Regions from separate parts of the Homo sapiens genome. Here region 2 is linked to region 1. The links come from fine-mapping of genetic effects on gene expression. Tissue or cell type: monocytes after R848. Region 1 holds a variant in brackets; the other region holds the start of a gene. All regions are shown on one strand. Distances are between the middles of the regions.

Region 1 (8,103 bases):
ACTAGCCACATGGGGGCCTTTGCATTAAAAAAGAAGAGTTTATAAAAGAAAATAATAAATTGGGTCAAAAGTGTGACCCATTCATTGCCTCATTCACTTATGACCACTGGAGTGACAAGGGGACAAAAGGTCATTGTGGGATCTTGGCTCTCACTCACTGTTTATAACTGATAATCAGCATCTTTTTTTTTTCCTGCTAATACTGTGGCTTGTCAAGATGAATCCAGGACTAAGAGGAAACCTTTTCACTTTGTAAGGCAGGAGGGGATCTTGCTGCTTTGCCTATGTGTGACTGTGTATCTGTGTGTACCTACGTGTACACATGCCACCACCAGCCAATTCACAAAGGGGTGCCCAGGCGAAATGACATTATTATTATTATTTGAGACAGGGTCTGGTTCTCTTGCCCAGGCGAAATGACATTATTATTATTATTTGAGACAGGGTCTGGTTCTCTTGCCCAGGCTGGAGTGTAGTGGTACGATGTCAGTTTACTGCCTTCCGAGCTCAAGCGATCCTCCCTTCTCAGCCTCCCAAGTAGCTGGGGCTACAGGCATGCACCATCACCCCTGAAAATTTTTGTATTTTTTGTAGAGATGGGGTTTCGTCATCTGGTTCACCCAGGCTGGTCTCAAACTCCTAGACTCAAGCAATCTGCTCAGCTTGGCCTCCCAAAGTGCTGGGATTACAGGTGTGAGCCATTGCGCCTGGCTGAAATGACATTATTTGCATGAGGGCAATGATGGCATGGGGCCTTTGCCAAGTTAGTGGAGAGAGATGAGTAGTCGACACAGGTCCCCTCCCAGGCCTCTGTGAGCCTCTATGCATTTTCTGACACACACTTTCCAAAAAGCCACAGAGATGCTTACTCATAGGCTATGCTTAGAATAGGAAATTTTATTTCTCTCTCAATTTCATTCCGATGTTTTAGCTTTGTTCTCTAGGCAACAAACAGTCCCTCTGGCTCAAGCGTTTCTAGAAATGAACAGATAATCAGAATGCCTCCTGCTCGCAGGCTCGAAAGTTAACAGTGTTATGAGCTACCTGTGGCTTGCACATTAAACGTCCCATCACAAGAAGGCGGTTGGGTTTTCAGGTGAACTTCACCTTTGGTAAATTTCACCCTCTGCAAGGCAGCCAGGCAGGAAGGTCCTAAACTTCCCACCCATCTCCTCACACCTATTGTACATCCCACCCAATCCTCCACCTCCCCTCCCTGCAGCCCAGGGAAAGGGCAGCCATTCGCTGTCAGAGGCGGTGACTGGCTTCTACCTGGGGACCCCAAAATGTCAGCCTGTTTGTCCTGCCTCATTGCCACCTCTCCTTCTATTGGAACATGCCCAAGTTTCTGCCACATGCAGACAACAGCTGACCCTTCTCTAAACCCTGTCTGCTTGCTATTGGCTTGGCCCTTTTGCTCTTTCACGGGCTGTGTGATACTGTCTCCCTCTCTCCACGCCTCAGTCTCCTTAAGTCGTGTGGCTCGGGTAGCAACAGCCCCCTCACATGTGAGGTGCTGAACACAGGGCCTGATGCCCTGTGTGATGTCCTTGATGCCGGCTCACCCCGGCAGCTGGCATGATCCCCACACCCTGCTCCTGCTGGCTGACACCCTGTGCCCTGGCACGGCCTGTTTCCCATTCCCAGATCACCCTTTCCTCCTCCTTCAGTATGAAGAGCTGGGCATGGTGTGGGCACCTAGGGAGGCCCCAACAAATGTTTGCTCTCATGGTTACATTATTGTCATCATCATTGCATGTCTCTTCCCCTAGATAGCCTTCTCAGCGCTCCCCAGGAAGAAGCAACCGCTCCCCAACACGTGTGACCACTTTGACTCTAGAACTTCTTTTCTGCCATCATGATCTCTATATCTGAGTGCATCTCCCCCATCAGCCTGAGAGCTCAGAGGGGTTGAGTCCGCCTGCTCTGTGATGCGGACGGGCGGGGGAGTCCAGCTGAGAGCAAGCTCAGCAGGCTGGCGCCCCACTTCCCACCCTTTCTGTGGGTAGGAGGATGGCATAACCCCTCTCCTTGTGCAGGCTCCCTGGGCCTACAACTGGCCCAAGAAGGAGGGAAGTCGCTGGCCCTGCCAACAGCTGCCTGGGCTCTCCTCTTTCTGGATACTTTTTTTTTTTTTTTTTTGAGACGGAGTCTCACTCTGTCGCCCAGGCTGGAGTGTAGTAGCGCTATCTGGGCTCACTGCAAGCTCCGCCTCCCGGGTTCACGCCATTCTCCTGCCTCAGCCTCCCGACTAGCTGGGACTACAGGTGCCCACCACCACACCTGGCTATTTTTTTGTATTTTTTAGTAGAGACGGGGTTTCACTGTGTTAGCCAGGATGGTCTCAATCTCCTGACCTCATGATCCACCCACCTTGGCCTCCCAAAGTGCTGGGATTACAGGTGTGAACCACCGTGCCTGGCCTTTTTTTTTTTTTTTTTTGAGATGTTGCCCAGGCTAGAGTGCAATGGTGTGATATCTCGGCTCACTGCAACCTCCGCCTCCCTGGTTCAAGAGATTCTCCTACCTCAGCCTCCCGAGTAGCTGGGATGACAGGCATGCACCAGCATGCCCAGCTAATTTTTTTTGTATTTTTAGTAGAGACGGGGATTCACCATGCTGGCCAGGCTGGTCTCGAACTCCTGACCTCAAGTGAGCTGCCTGCCTTGGCTTCCCAAAGTGCTGGGATTACAGGCGTGAGCCACCATGCCCAGCCTTCTTTCTGGATACTTGCCCTCTGCTCCCACAAACTCTGCTCTCAGGAATGGAGCTGGCATCAGCCACGTACACTCACGTCTGAATCTGGCCCTGGTGCCTCTCCTGGAGCCTCCTGCAGTAGAAACCTTTTGTTCAAAACCTATCTCAGGCTGGGTGTGGTGGCTCATGCCCGTAATCCCAGCACTTTAGGCCGAGGTGGGTAAATCACTTGAGTCTAGGAGTTGGAGACCAGCCTGGGCAACATGATGAAACCCCATTTCTACAAAAAATACAAAAATTAGCTGGGCATGGAGGCACGCCTATAGTCCTAGCTACTCGGGAGGCTGAGGTGGGAGGATTGCCCGAGCCTGGGAAATTGAGGCCGCAGTGAGCCACTGCACTCCAGCCTGGATGACAGAGCAAGACCCTCTCATAAACAAACAAACAAACAAGCAAAAAAAGCCTATCTCAGGCCCTGGCTCAAGTCTGTTCCTCCCCATCTCTGCAGGGCTCCTATCTCTGTTAGTGGGGCCTCTAGCCCCCTAAACTCCCTCCTGAATCAGGCAGCCCAACCAGTCTATGAGATCAGCTCGCCTGTCAGAGCCATCAGTAAATCTGTCGGCATGTTGGCTCACACCTGTAATTCCAGCACTTTGGGAGGCCCGGAGGGAAGATCACTTGAGGCCAGGGGTTTGAGACCAGCCTGGGCAACATAGTGAGCCTGTTTCTAAAAAAAAAAAAAAAAAAAAAAAAAAATTAAAAATTAGCCAGGACGGTGGCATGAGCCTGTAGTCCCAGCTACTCAGGAGGCTGAGGCACAAGAATTGCTTGAAACCAGGAGGCAGAGGTTGCAATGAGCTGAGATTGCACTGCTGCATTCCAGCCTGGGCGACAGAGAGAGATTGTCTCAAAAAAAAAAATAATAAAATAAAATTTAAAAATTATAATTTACAAATTATGTATCCTCTGCAAGGCCCCAGGGCTAGGTTCCAGGAACATAGAATTGCCCCAAATCTGTCTGGCAGGCAGCAGACAGGTAACCAGGTGGTGATCATACATGGCATTTGGAACCATGATAGGGGGAGCAGAGGATACCGCAGGAGCCCAGAGCAAGGACTCAACCTCCCAGGGGTCAGGAGTTAAGACTAGGGAGGGAGGGAAGGAGGGAGCTGGCAGGAGTCAAGATGCAGCCCGATGCCAGGCACATGCCACTCCATGCCCAAGTGCCTGAGGCCTGGCCGGCCATTGCCCCTCCT[G/A]CAGGCTGGGGCTGCCTGGGTCCCAGTGTGAGAAGCACTGACTCTTTCTCAGCAGGGGCAGCATGGGCCTTGAGGTTAGGACCTTCACAGCCCTGTGGCCTGCACAGGGGTGCCCACAGGTCAGGTTTCCCAGTGCAGACTCATGCCCAGAGCTCATGCCTGTGCTCAGCCTCTAGCTCTCATGTAACCTGAGGGCAAAAAATAGAACTGGGTTTTGACCCTGCCTTGGAGCCAGGGAGGATAGAGATAGGGCCTCTGTGTCAGCTCTGAATACGCCAGGGCAGGGCTGAACTCTGACTTCAATCTTCCCTGGCTGTGGGCTGTCATCAATCCCAGCCCAGCACTCTTGGTGTGCCCACTTCCTTCTCCCAGGCCTGGGTCACAGGATCTCAGGGCGAAGGGAGAGCAAGAGGCCCCTTGGACTCCATCAACTCCAACTCTCCTCCACTGACAGATGAGGAAACTGAGGCCCAGATAAAATCCCAATATGCCCAAGGTTGCCCAGCAAATATGAGCAAAGGTATGGCTGGAACCCAGGCCTCCCCACCCTGAGTGGGCACCCTGGCCTCCCCTATGTCTCCTTGGGTTGAGGCAGAGAGAGGATAGAGGCTGCGACTCAGATGCCCCTCAGTAGGAAAGGCAGGAAGCCAGCCTTCGCCCTCAGGCAGAATGATCTAGTGGGTCTGGGCCTGGAGCCTCGGCCCTAAACTGCCCAGAGCCCTGCTGCCCTCTTTCATCAGAGCCAGCATCTGGAGTCACATAGACCATGCTTCACATCATTAGGGACCCCGTGACCTCTGTGCAAATCATGAACTTCTTTCTTTCTTTCTTCTTTTTTTTTTTTTTTTTGAGATGGAGTCTAGCTCTGTCCCTAGGCTGGAGTGCAGTGGCGTGATCTCGGCTCACTGCAACCTCTGCCTCCTGGGTTCAAGTGATTCTCCTGCCTCAGGTTCCCGAGTAGGGGGGATTACAGGCAGGCGCCACCACGCCCAGCTAATTTTTGTAATTTTAGTAGACAGGGTTTCACCACGTTGGCCAGGATGGTCTTGATCTCCTGACCTCGTGATCCTCCCACCTCTGTTGCGGGAAGTCAGGGACCCCAAACGGAGGGACCAGCTGAAGCCATTGCAGAAGAACGTGGATTGTGAAGATTTCATGGACATTTATTAGTTTCCCAAATTAATACTTTTGTAATTTCTTACGCCTGTCTTTACTGCAATCTCTGAACATAAATTGTGAAGATTTCATGGACACTTATCACTTCTCCAACCAATACCCTTGTGATTTCCTATGCCTATCTTTAATCTCTTAATCCCATCATCTTCGTAAGCTGAGGAGGCTGTATGTCGCCTCAGGACCCTGTGATGATTGCGTTAACTGCACAAATTGTAGAGCATGTGTGTTTGAACAATATGAAATCTGGGCACCTTGAAAGAACAGGATAACAGCAATGTTCAGGGAACAAGAGAGATAATCTTAAACTCTGACTGCCGGTGAGCCGGGTGGAACAGAGCCATATTTCTCTTCTTTCAAAAGCAAATGGGAGAAATGTTGCTGAATTCTTTTTCTCAGCAAGGGACATCCTTGAGAAAGAGAATGCGTCCCTGAGGGTAGGCCTCTAAAATGGCTGCTTCTGGGGGGCGGCCATCTTTTATGGTCGAAGCTGTAGGGATGAAATAAGCCCCAGTCTCCCATAGCGCTCCCAGGCTTATTAGGACGAGGAAATTCCCGCCTAATAAATTTTGGTCAGACTGGTTGTCTGCTCTCAAACCCTGTCTCTTGATAAGATGTTATCAATGACAATGCGTGCCCGAAACTTCATTAGCAATTTTAATTTCACCCCGGTCCTATGGTCCTGTGATCTGGCCCTGCCTCCATTTGCCTTGTGATATTCTATTACCTTGTGAAGCACGTGGTCTCTGTGACCCACATCCTATTGGTACACTCCCTCCCCTTTTGAAAATCACTAATCAAAACTTGCTGGTTTTATGGCTCAGGGGGCATCACGGAACCTGCCGACATATGATGTCTCCCCCGGACACCCAGCTTTAAAATTTCTCCCTTTTGTACTCTGTCCCTTTATTTCTCAGACCAGCTGACACTTAGGTAATACAGAAAAGAACCTACGTGAAATATCAGGGGTGAATTTCGCCCGATATCTGGCTGAATTTCCCCCAATACACCTCAGCCTCCCAAAGTGCTGGGATTACAGGTGTGAGCCACTGCGCTGGGCTGAACTTCTTTCTTTTTCTTGAGACAGAGTCTCATTCTGTCGCCCAGGCTGGAGTGCAGTGGTGTAATCTCAGCTCACTGCAACCTCCTTCTCCCGGGTTCAAGGAATTCTTATGCCTCAGCCTCCCCAGTAGCTGGGATTACAGGTGCATGCCACCTGGCCCGGCTAATTTTGAGACAGAGTTTCACTCTTGTTACCCAGGCTGGAGTGCAATAGCGTGATCTCAGCTCACTGCAACCTCCGCCTCCCAGGTTCAAGCGATTCTCTCACCTCAGCCTCCTGAGTAGCTGGGATTACAGGCGCCCACCATCACGCTCAGCTAATTTTTGTATTTTCAGTAGAGACAGGGTTTCCCCATGTTGGCCAGGCTGGTCTCGAACTCCTGACCTCAGGTGATCCACTTGCCTCGGCCTCCCAAAGTGCTGGGATTACAGCTGTGAGCCACTGCGCCTGGCCCAATTTTTTTTTTTTTTTTTTTTTTTTTGAGATGGAGTCTCACTCTGTCGCCTTGGCTGGAGTGCAGTGGGGCGATCTTGGCTCACTGCAACCTCTGCCACCCGGGTTCAAGCTATTCTCCTGCCTCAGCCTCCCGAGTAGCTGGGATTACAGACACCTGCCATGGCGCCCGGTTAATTTTTTTGTATTTTTAGTAGAGATGGGGTTTCACCACCTTGGTTAGTCTGTTCTTGAACTTCTGACCTCATGATCCACCCGCCTCAGCCTCCCAAAGTGCTGGAATTACAGGCATGAGACACCGCGCCCGGCCCCAATTTTTGTATTTTTAATAGATACAGGGTTTCACCATGTTGGCCAGGGTGGTCTCGAACTCCTGGTCTCAAGAGTCCTCCCACCTCAGCCTCCCAAAGTGCTGGGATTACAGGCATGAGATACCATGCCCAGCCTGTCAAATCATGAACTTCTCTGGGTCTTAGTCCCATCATCTGTAAAATGGGGATAAAGTTGGTGGTTGCCATGACAACTCAAGGTCAACACTCAGCACCAAGCCTGTCACACTGTAGCTCCCAGTAAACAACAGCCCTCCCCAGACTTAGACCTGACCCCTGACCTTCCAAATCCCAGCTCATCCCAGACCCTCCTTTTCTCTCCCTGGCCCATGCTTTCTGGCTTTCCTTTGTGTCCAAAGCCTCAGGCCACATCTCTTGGAAGCATGGAGTCTGACTATCTGGGTTTAGATCTTGCCTCTGCTGCTCACTGGCCACGTGGCCCAGGGCAAGCCTCTTCATCTATCAAATGGGAACAATACAGTGAGATAAAAGGCTAGTCAAACACAGATCACTGGCTATCACTAAATACTGGTTTGTAATTCCAGAACTTCAGGAAGCTGAGGGGGGAAGATCGCTGAGGACAGGAGTTCAAGACCTACCTTGGCAACATAGCAAGACTCTGTGTCTATAAAAAAAAAAAATTAGCTGACCAGGTGGGGTGGCTCACGCTTGAAATCCTAGCACCTTGGGAGGTCAGGAGTTCAAGATCAGCCTGGCCAACATGGTAAAATGCTGTCTCTACTAAAAATACAAAAATTAGCTTAGCGTGGTGGTGTGCACCTGTAGTCCCACTTACTTGGGAGGCTGAGGCAGAAGAATCACTTGAACCCAGGATGCGGAGGCTGTATTGAGCTGAGATCTCACCAATGCAGCCTGGGTGACAGAGCCAGACCCTGTCTAAATAAGTAAATAAACAAATAAACACGAGTTGGGCCTCCAGAGCCTGAGTCTGGGGCCTGGAACTCACTGAACTGTTGGCCCTCTCTGAGCCTCAGTTCTGCTTCCTCCACAGCCATGAACCTCAGTTTCCTCATTTGTAAAATGGGACAACAGCCATACCCCTCACAGGGCCATCCAGGCCATGCACCCACCCGGACCCCCACCTTCTCAATTGGCCACCCAGGCACTTACT
Region 2 (8,103 bases), 26 kb before region 1:
CTGCTGCTTCACTGGAATCATTAAGCTGGAGCGGGGAGGGAAAGGTGACACAGGTTACAGATGGCTGAGGCCAGGGCCAGAGCAGATTTGACAGGGTCCTGGGGGAGTGGCTGAGGCTTCCCCGGGTATCTTAGGACAAGTGCAGCTCTGTTACAATTTTCAGAGAAGCAAGGGAGTAACCACAGTTTCTTCTTGTGGAAAGATATGCTAAAGGGGTGTTTCATGGACACCCAGAAGAAAAGCAATTCTGTGTTTGTAAAAGGGCCCCAGTGCAGTCCACAAGAGAAGGGTTATCAGGAACTCAGAACCATCTTCCAAAGCAGTCTTTTGTTTTTTTGAGATGGAGTTTCATTCTGTCTCCCAGGCTGGAATGCAGTGGCACAATCTCGGCTCACTGCAACCTCCACCTCCCGGGTTCAAGCGATTCTCCTGCCTCAGCCTCCCGAGCAGCTAGGATTACAGGCATGCGCCACCACACCTGGCTAATTTTTGTATTTTTAGTAGAGACGGGGTTTCACCATGTTGGCCAGGCTAGTCTCGAACTCCTGACCTCAAGAGATATGCCTGCCTTGGGCTCCCAAAGTGGTAGGATTACATGCGTGAGAGCCACCATGCCCACCCAGCCAAAAGCAGTCATCTTGATGATCCTTCTTAAGGATGAAATGGGAGAGAGGGGTCTTAGAGGGGAGGAGTAAAAGTTGTAGAGTAGGGTTCGAAGGATGAATTTGAGAGGTGTTTAGCTTGGGGAGCACTTGCTCTAGACCCTGTGCCTAAAGGGGATCTGGGAGGCGGGGGCTTGGGGGAGTATAGATCAGAGCAGGGAGAAATAAAAGTAAGAGTTTGGACAGATGTTAGGCTGGTTAATAGGGGAATTCCAGAAGAAGGTTTGGGGAAAATTTAGAATAGGGAGGTGTGGGGTGGACAGGGGTTTTAGGAGACTCTGAAAGGTGAGGTGAAACATGGGGTGGGGTGGGGTAGAATGGAGCTAGGTACTCCAGGTGAAAATATAACAATCTGGTCAAAATGAGGAAATGCTGAAGAGTGGATATACTTCTAAGCACTGCATTTTCACTTTTTGATAATTTGGTTACACCATGAAGTAGTCTTACAAATAAATACCTTTAAATGGTTTTGCCCATTTAAAAATAATTCTTCAGGATCAGGCACAGTGGCTGAGGCCTATAATCCCAGCACTTTGGGAGGCCAAGGTGGGCAGATCACTTGAGGTCAGGAGTTCGAGACCAGCCTGGCCAACATGGTGAAACCCCATCTCTACTAAAAATACAAAAATTAGCCGGGTGTAGTGGTGAGCACCTGTAATCCCAGCTAATCAGGAGGCTAAGGCAGGAGAATCACTGGAACCCAGGAGGCAGAGGTTGCAGTGAGCCAAGACTGTGCCACTGCACTCGGGCCTGGGCCACAGAGCTAGACTCTGTCTCAAAAAAAAAATTGTTCATATTTTCTTTCTAAAATGCGGAAACAAAATCTACAGTATGGAAGCAATTGAATAAATTTTGGTATGTCATAAAATAAAATACATGTAATTGTGTATGAAACATAGACGGGTGGTATATTAGATGGGAGAAAAAAGCAGGTTACTAAAAAGTGAACTTTTGTGATGTATCTTTTTTAAGTATAAGCATGTTGTAACATATATATATATATATATATATATATATATGAATGGATTCTGATCAAAATACACCAAAATGTTAACAGTGATTGTCCCTAGCCACTTATGCTGCTGGCCTGTCTTGTCTTCTTTTTATTTCTTCGAGACGGGGTCTCACTCTGTCCCCCAGGTTGGAGAGTAGTGGCACAATCTCAGCTCACTGCAACCTCCACATCCCAGGCTCAAGTGATCCTCCCACCTCAGCCTCCTGAGTAACTGGGACCACAGGTGAGCCACCAAGCCCGGCTAATTTTTTGTATTTTTGGTAGAGATGGGGTTTCACCCTGTTGCCCAGGCTGGTCTCGAACTCCTGAGCTCAGGTGATCCAACTGCCTCAGCGTTTCAAAGTGAAGTGGTGGGAATACAAGCGTGAGCCACCATGCCTGTCCTCATTTTTCTATAAGTGTACACTACTTTTATAATTGGGTCAAAAAAGACAACTGTAGAAGGATAAAAAATATTGAAGGACTAGTTTTTCTAATGCATTTTCAGCCTATTTGGAACTGGAGTGTTGTGAATGTTTTCATATTTACAAACTAGTATGAACAATCCAACTTCTCAATCTCTCATTTACATTTTTCTGACCTCTATGCATAGCCTAGGTGTGAGGTGATGGAAAAAGCTGGTTTAGAGATCAAGATGCTCAAACACAAAAGTCCCCCAAATCCTGAGAGTTTTTTGTTTTTTTAAAAAAATCCTTAAAACATTTAAAGACGCATAAAACTCTTCACCCACTCAGTGGTGCAAAAAATTTACCAATACTAGAAGGGGAGGAGGCTGGCAACGACTGGAAATATTCCCTTTCAAGTAATAAATAATGGTTATTTTGAACCAAATTGCTTTCCACCTCAAGTCCTCCATGGATGGGAGCCTGGAGGATGCAGTGATGGGGGTTATGGAATGGAAAGGAGCGTGGGTAATTGGGTTTGTGAGGATTGGGGCCAGGCAGAGGGAACTGGGGGCTTTTCCAGGACCACTGGGGAACACAGAGGCTGAGAAGGGGAGTGTGGGATGGGTTCGAGCTGGGGAGGACCTCGGCCTCGCCAGGCTCTAAGGAGAGTCACAGCTCACCACCTAGGGCGCTGGGACCACACGATGTCATGCCTGGGAGACTGAAGGGCTAGGACAGATTCTGAGAAAATGTGGACTGGAGATGGGGATTCCAGGTTCTCCCGGGAGTCCAGGCGAGGGAGTTCCGGCTTCAGGGAGTCCCAAGAGCTAGACTGGGAAGGGGCTGGTGCCCAGGACTATGAGAAATCCAGACTCCCCTGGGGTGTGAAAAAGGGCCGAGGTCCGGCTGAGGGAGAGCGAGTCTGAAAGAGTTCGGGCTCCCTTGCGGGTCCGAGAGTCTAACGAAGGCTCTGGGCACCCAGGCCGCACCTGAAGAGCACCAACGACTGCTCGGTCCGCGGCGCGGGAAGGAGATGTGCGGCTGAACCCCTACGCCGATTACTTAGCGGCGGCCCTATCGAGAGGGTGGTTCGAGCCCGAGGTGGCGCCGGTCCCGTAAATCGTGGAGGATCTCAGGTCCCCTGTGACCAAGGGCGTAGTCAGCTGTGTCATGGCGGCTTCCCTGTTCGAGAAACAGTTGGAAACTGGAGGCCGGTTGGGAGTCATGGTCGTTGGGCGCACGGAGGCCGGTTGGAAGCCATGGTCGTTGGGCGCCAGGAGGCCGGTTGAGAGCCGTGCTCGTTGGACGCGCGCAGACCTGGAGTTAGTCCCTGGGCGGAACCTGGAGCCCCGCGCGGCGCGTTGCCTGGGAGACGCATAAGGGGGCGGGGCCGGGGAGGGAGTGTCGCACATGCGCACAGAGCCCGGGCGGCTACGGAAGCGGTGAGACTGTCTCTCGGCTGCAGCCCTGGTGCGACCCGGCCCGTTGCCGTAGAGATGGGCAGGGCTGGATGGAGTGGGGTGCGGTGAGCTGAGCTGACCCTGCTTCGCCACGGGGACTGCAGTGACCCCGGCTTGCCGGCAGGGCGGGTAACAGGTTGAGCCAGGGTGGGGCTGCTCAGGGGCGTGGAGCCGAGGCCAGGATTTCTCTGAAGACCCGGCACAGGCTATTCCTTTCTGCGACGAGCCCATTGCTATGGAAACCAAAGCGTTAGGCCAGCGGGGATTGAGGCTGCGGGATCATGACGGGTCTCTCTCCCGAAGAACCTTGCCTAAGGCTTCCCCAAGCGGCTACTTCCTGAGCGAACCCGCCCACCCGCCTGAAGGAGAGAGGTAAAACCCTGGGGGTCCTGACACTAAGCAGGCGAAGAAGCCTATTCCAATGCCAGCTCCCCTAGGAAACCTACCCGGCCCACCCCTAGAAGTGATGCTTCGCTCTCGTTAACTCTTGGACTTTGTTCCATGTTTATAACTTAGTATTTCACGAACGCCCCGCGGTGTTTGTTCATTTTTCCCACACATAATGGACCATAAAGGTCGGCTTCTTTGCTTTATGACTCGTTCTGAACAAGTCCTTTTCCGCGCTGTGTCTCACTTTCCTCTTTTGTAAAATGGAAATATTAACTCTAGACGCCGGTCTGATTAGGTTGCTTTGAAGATCGAACCAGATGAGGGAAGCCAAATACTTCATAGGCTGTAAAGTGGTGAAGCTGAACTGCTACCGAGTTGCTATTTTTTTCTCCTCCTCCCTCTCAAGCTAAACGTTCTTTAGATCTTTTGTGATTTCTTCAGGTGGTCTTTGCGACTCCCTAGGCTCCGACCTGGAAGAAATCTTTTTTACACTTCCCTTTCACAGAGCCCTGCATTTTAACTTCCCTATCAGAAGCGAGAAAAATAGTTATCATTTTGAGAGGGCTTACTCTATGCCAAGCCCTGAGAAAACTCTTTACGTGGATTATCTCGTTTAATTTCACAACATCCTTTTAAGGTAGGTACTGTTATCCTATTTTCAAGCTCTGTCTGCCTGTAATTGCCTGTTTACTATCTGTTTCTCCCACTAGTCTTTGAGCTCCCTGAGAAAAGGGGCCATGCCTGTCTTGTACATTTCAGTATCTCCAACACCTAATACAGTGCCTGATAGAGATTGCTTTTTTTTTTTTTTTTTTTTTTTTTGAGATGGAGTCTCACGCTGTCTCCCAGGCTGGAGTGCAGTGGCACGATCTTGGCTCACTGCAGCCTCCGCCTCCCGGGTTCAAGCAATTCTCCCGTCTCAGCCTCCTGAGTAGCTGGGACTACAGGCCCATGCCACCACGCCTGGCTAATTTTTGTATTTTTAGTAGAGACGGGGGTTTCACCATGTTGGTCAGGCTGGTCTTGAACTCCTGACCTCAGGTGATCTGCCCGCCTCGGCCTTCCAAAGTGCTGGGATTATAGGCTTAAGCCACCGTGCCCAGCCCTGATAGATATTTCTTAACTAGCATGAAAATGACTCCTCGCATCACTACCCTCACCTGCAAGAGCATTGTCACTTCTGCAGACTTTTAGTGGCTATAATGAACAGCACATTCCTCTATTCCCGTTACCCACTGGGCACTGGTTTGGGGGGACATCAGTTCACTTCTCTATGGATTTTCTGATGACGAGGATCCAGAACATTCCTTAGCATTTAGACTTCCATCTGGGTTCAGGAGGCTTTTTCTTTGCCCTTCATATCACCTCTGTAGCAAGCCAGCCCTCTCTGTCCTTCCGGGAATGAGCCTGATGCATTTGAGTCTGGGGCATTGGCAGGTAGGATTTGCCTATACAACCTTTGGTCTTTCTCTTTAGTAGCCTCAGAACCACCCCCATCCCCACCCAGCCCCTCCCTGGAATTCTGGAGACACGCTGCCAGAGAACTCATTCTTTCCAGAAAACCTCTCAGAAGGCAGAGTCATAGCTGTTGGGAGTCATTTCTTCATTCAACAAATATTTATCAAGCACCTACTTGTGGGGACACAGCGCTTGGCACTAGTTGGTGATAGAGTGGGAGTGAAGACAGACACCATCATATCCCTAAAGGGCTCACAGTCTCTTGGGGAGACAGACATTAATCAAATAATCAGACAGATCGGAGCAAAACTACGTCTTCAGTAAGTGTTAGGAAGGAGAGAACATAGGGCTAAGAAAGCCTGGAGCAGAGTTGGTCAAACGTGAGGGAGGGGTGTGATCTAAGGAGATTTCCCTTAAAACAGTTACCTTTAAGTTGATATCTTAAGGCTCCTCAGACTTCTGCAGTCCTCTGCTGAATGGACCAGATCAGGATCTGATGGGTTCATAAGGAAAGAGACTGAGAGATCAGCAGGGGCAAAGGCCACTGGCTGGAGAGGACAGGTTGTCCCTAAGGAACTGTAAGTGGCTCGGTTCACCTGAGGCCCTTCAGAGCATGGAGAAGCCTAATAAGAGGCTGGAGAGACAGGCAGGAGCCAGGTCACAAATGGCCTTGACAGCCAAACTAAGTGGCTCCATCTTATCCTCACAGTGGATAGCCACTGAAATATATTAAGCAGGGAAACAAAACTTTGGCTCCTCATTTCTCGTGCCTGGTGAAGACTGCCACTTGGCCTTGAAAGGTGTGATCTAAATCCAAATGTCCCTATTTCAGCGGAATGTATAAAGATGTCCTGGTTTTTGCAGCTTTGTTTAAGACTGAGAAAGTGAGGGTCCGAGAGTCTAATGAATGCTCTGGGCACCCAGGCCGCACCTGAGGAGCACCGACGACTGCACGGTCTGCGGCGCGGGAAGCAGATCTGCGGCTGAACCTCTACCCCAATTACTTAGCGGCGACTGAGCCTATCGAGCAGGTGAAGGGAAGGGGTCTGCCTCTCCCTGGGGTGTGTTTCACAGCTCTGCTGCAGGCAGCATGATGCAGGTGTGGCAGGTCTTCCTAAGGCCCTGCTGTCTCTGTGCTTGTCCCTGGGGTTGCTGTGGTGCCCATTATGCTGGCTTCCAGGAAGCTTTCAGCCACTCCCTTTCCCAGGCCTTCTTCAGAGGCAAGGTGCAGGAGCATGTCTAACAATTTAGGACTTTGTATTTGACATCAGCTTCGCATGGGCATATCCTGTCTCTTTAAAGAGATGGTTCTTAGAGGGGGAAAATGGGAACCCTCCCTACTCTTATACCAGCCTCCTCAGTGACTGCCAGCACAGTGGGCTCTGGTTCCATGCCACTGGCTCAGGACCTTATGATTTGGGCATAAAGTCAGAAGACTGAGGAGGAAGACTGTACAAATGGTTCCCACTCAGAGGGGCTGGAAGGAAGGAGAGAATTTGGAAGAGCAGCAAGAAAAGGGCTCTGTGAGCTTAAATGGAGAATCAGGCCAAGGCACAGCTGAGGGACACAAGTCATCTGCCCAACTAGAGCTGTGGGACCCCTCAAGGGAGGCCTCAAGTGCCAGACTTGGGGACTTGCCATTTGTCCTATAGGGCAGTGCACATTAGACCACCTGAGAAGCATGCTGAAAATGCAGATTCATGCTCTTCACCCCGAGAGTCTGACTGTGGGTTTGGAGAGGGACCTGGGTATCTGTACTTTAAATGAGTTTGCTGGGTAGTTCTGCTGTGATGGTCAGAGGACTGCCTTGGGGAATGCTATAAGCCTATCCATCCATTTCCCAGGGATCCCCTGGAATTGGCCCTCTGGGCACCTGCCCTCTAAACATCCTCTCCCTCTCTGCAGTTTTCCATGGACACAGCCTAGCAGAAAGACGCAGCCTTCGTGCTTCGCTGACTGCTGACCACTGACCCACCGCCTTGATGACAGCACCCTCGTGTGCCTTCCCAGTTCAGTTCCGGCAGCCCTCAGTCAGCGGCCTCTCGCAGATAACCAAAAGCCTGTATATCAGCAATGGTGTGGCCGCCAACAACAAGCTCATGCTGTCTAGCAACCAGATCACCATGGTCATCAATGTCTCAGTGGAGGTAGTGAACACCTTGTATGAGGATATCCAGTACATGCAGGTACCTGTGGCTGACTCCCCTAACTCACGTCTCTGTGACTTCTTTGACCCTATTGCTGACCATATCCACAGCGTGGAGATGAAGCAGGGCCGTACTTTGCTGCACTGTGCTGCTGGTGTGAGCCGCTCAGCTGCCCTGTGCCTCGCCTACCTCATGAAGTACCACGCCATGTCCCTGCTGGACGCCCACACGTGGACCAAGTCATGCCGGCCCATCATCCGACCCAACAGCGGCTTTTGGGAGCAGCTCATCCACTATGAGTTCCAATTGTTTGGCAAGAACACTGTGCACATGGTCAGTTCCCCAGTGGGAATGATCCCTGACATCTATGAGAAGGAAGTCCGTTTGATGATTCCACTGTGAGCCATCCCACGAGCCCCTGCATTGGAGTCAGAGGTACAGATCTATTGTTGATCTTACACCAAGATCCAAACTTGAACATTCTACTTTTGTTGATACAGAAAAAAACAGATGATGCCTTTTATGAGCACAAAAAAGAGTTGCTGTAGCTTTTAACTTTATAATCCATTTTTTTTAAGATTAAAC

The links. PIP is the estimated chance that this variant, and not a neighbour inherited with it, causes the effect.
Region 2: it holds the start of DUSP18, and the variant in region 1 is fine-mapped to the expression of DUSP18 in monocytes after R848 (Quach 2016, PIP 0.95). The same link has a PIP of 0.9 or more in monocytes, monocytes after LPS and monocytes after Pam3CSK4.

Annotation. Positions count from the first base shown.
Region 1 is chr22:30,637,069-30,645,171 of GRCh38, reverse strand. SLC35E4 (solute carrier family 35 member E4) reads right to left here. Exons shown (of 2, transcript NM_001001479.4): 1 at 8,103. Among named protein-coding and RNA genes, the nearest start is that of SLC35E4, 5.3 kb to the right of the region's middle. The variant G/A (reference allele first, on the strand shown) is at 3,954.
Region 2 is chr22:30,663,254-30,671,356 of GRCh38, reverse strand. DUSP18 (dual specificity phosphatase 18) reads left to right here and starts at 3,482. Exons shown (of 2, transcript NM_152511.5): 1 at 3,482-3,895; 2 at 7,277-8,103. The coding sequence starts at 7,354. The coding sequence ends at 7,920. It also overlaps a transcript of SLC35E4 not described here. RefSeq lists an enhancer at 2,995-3,384.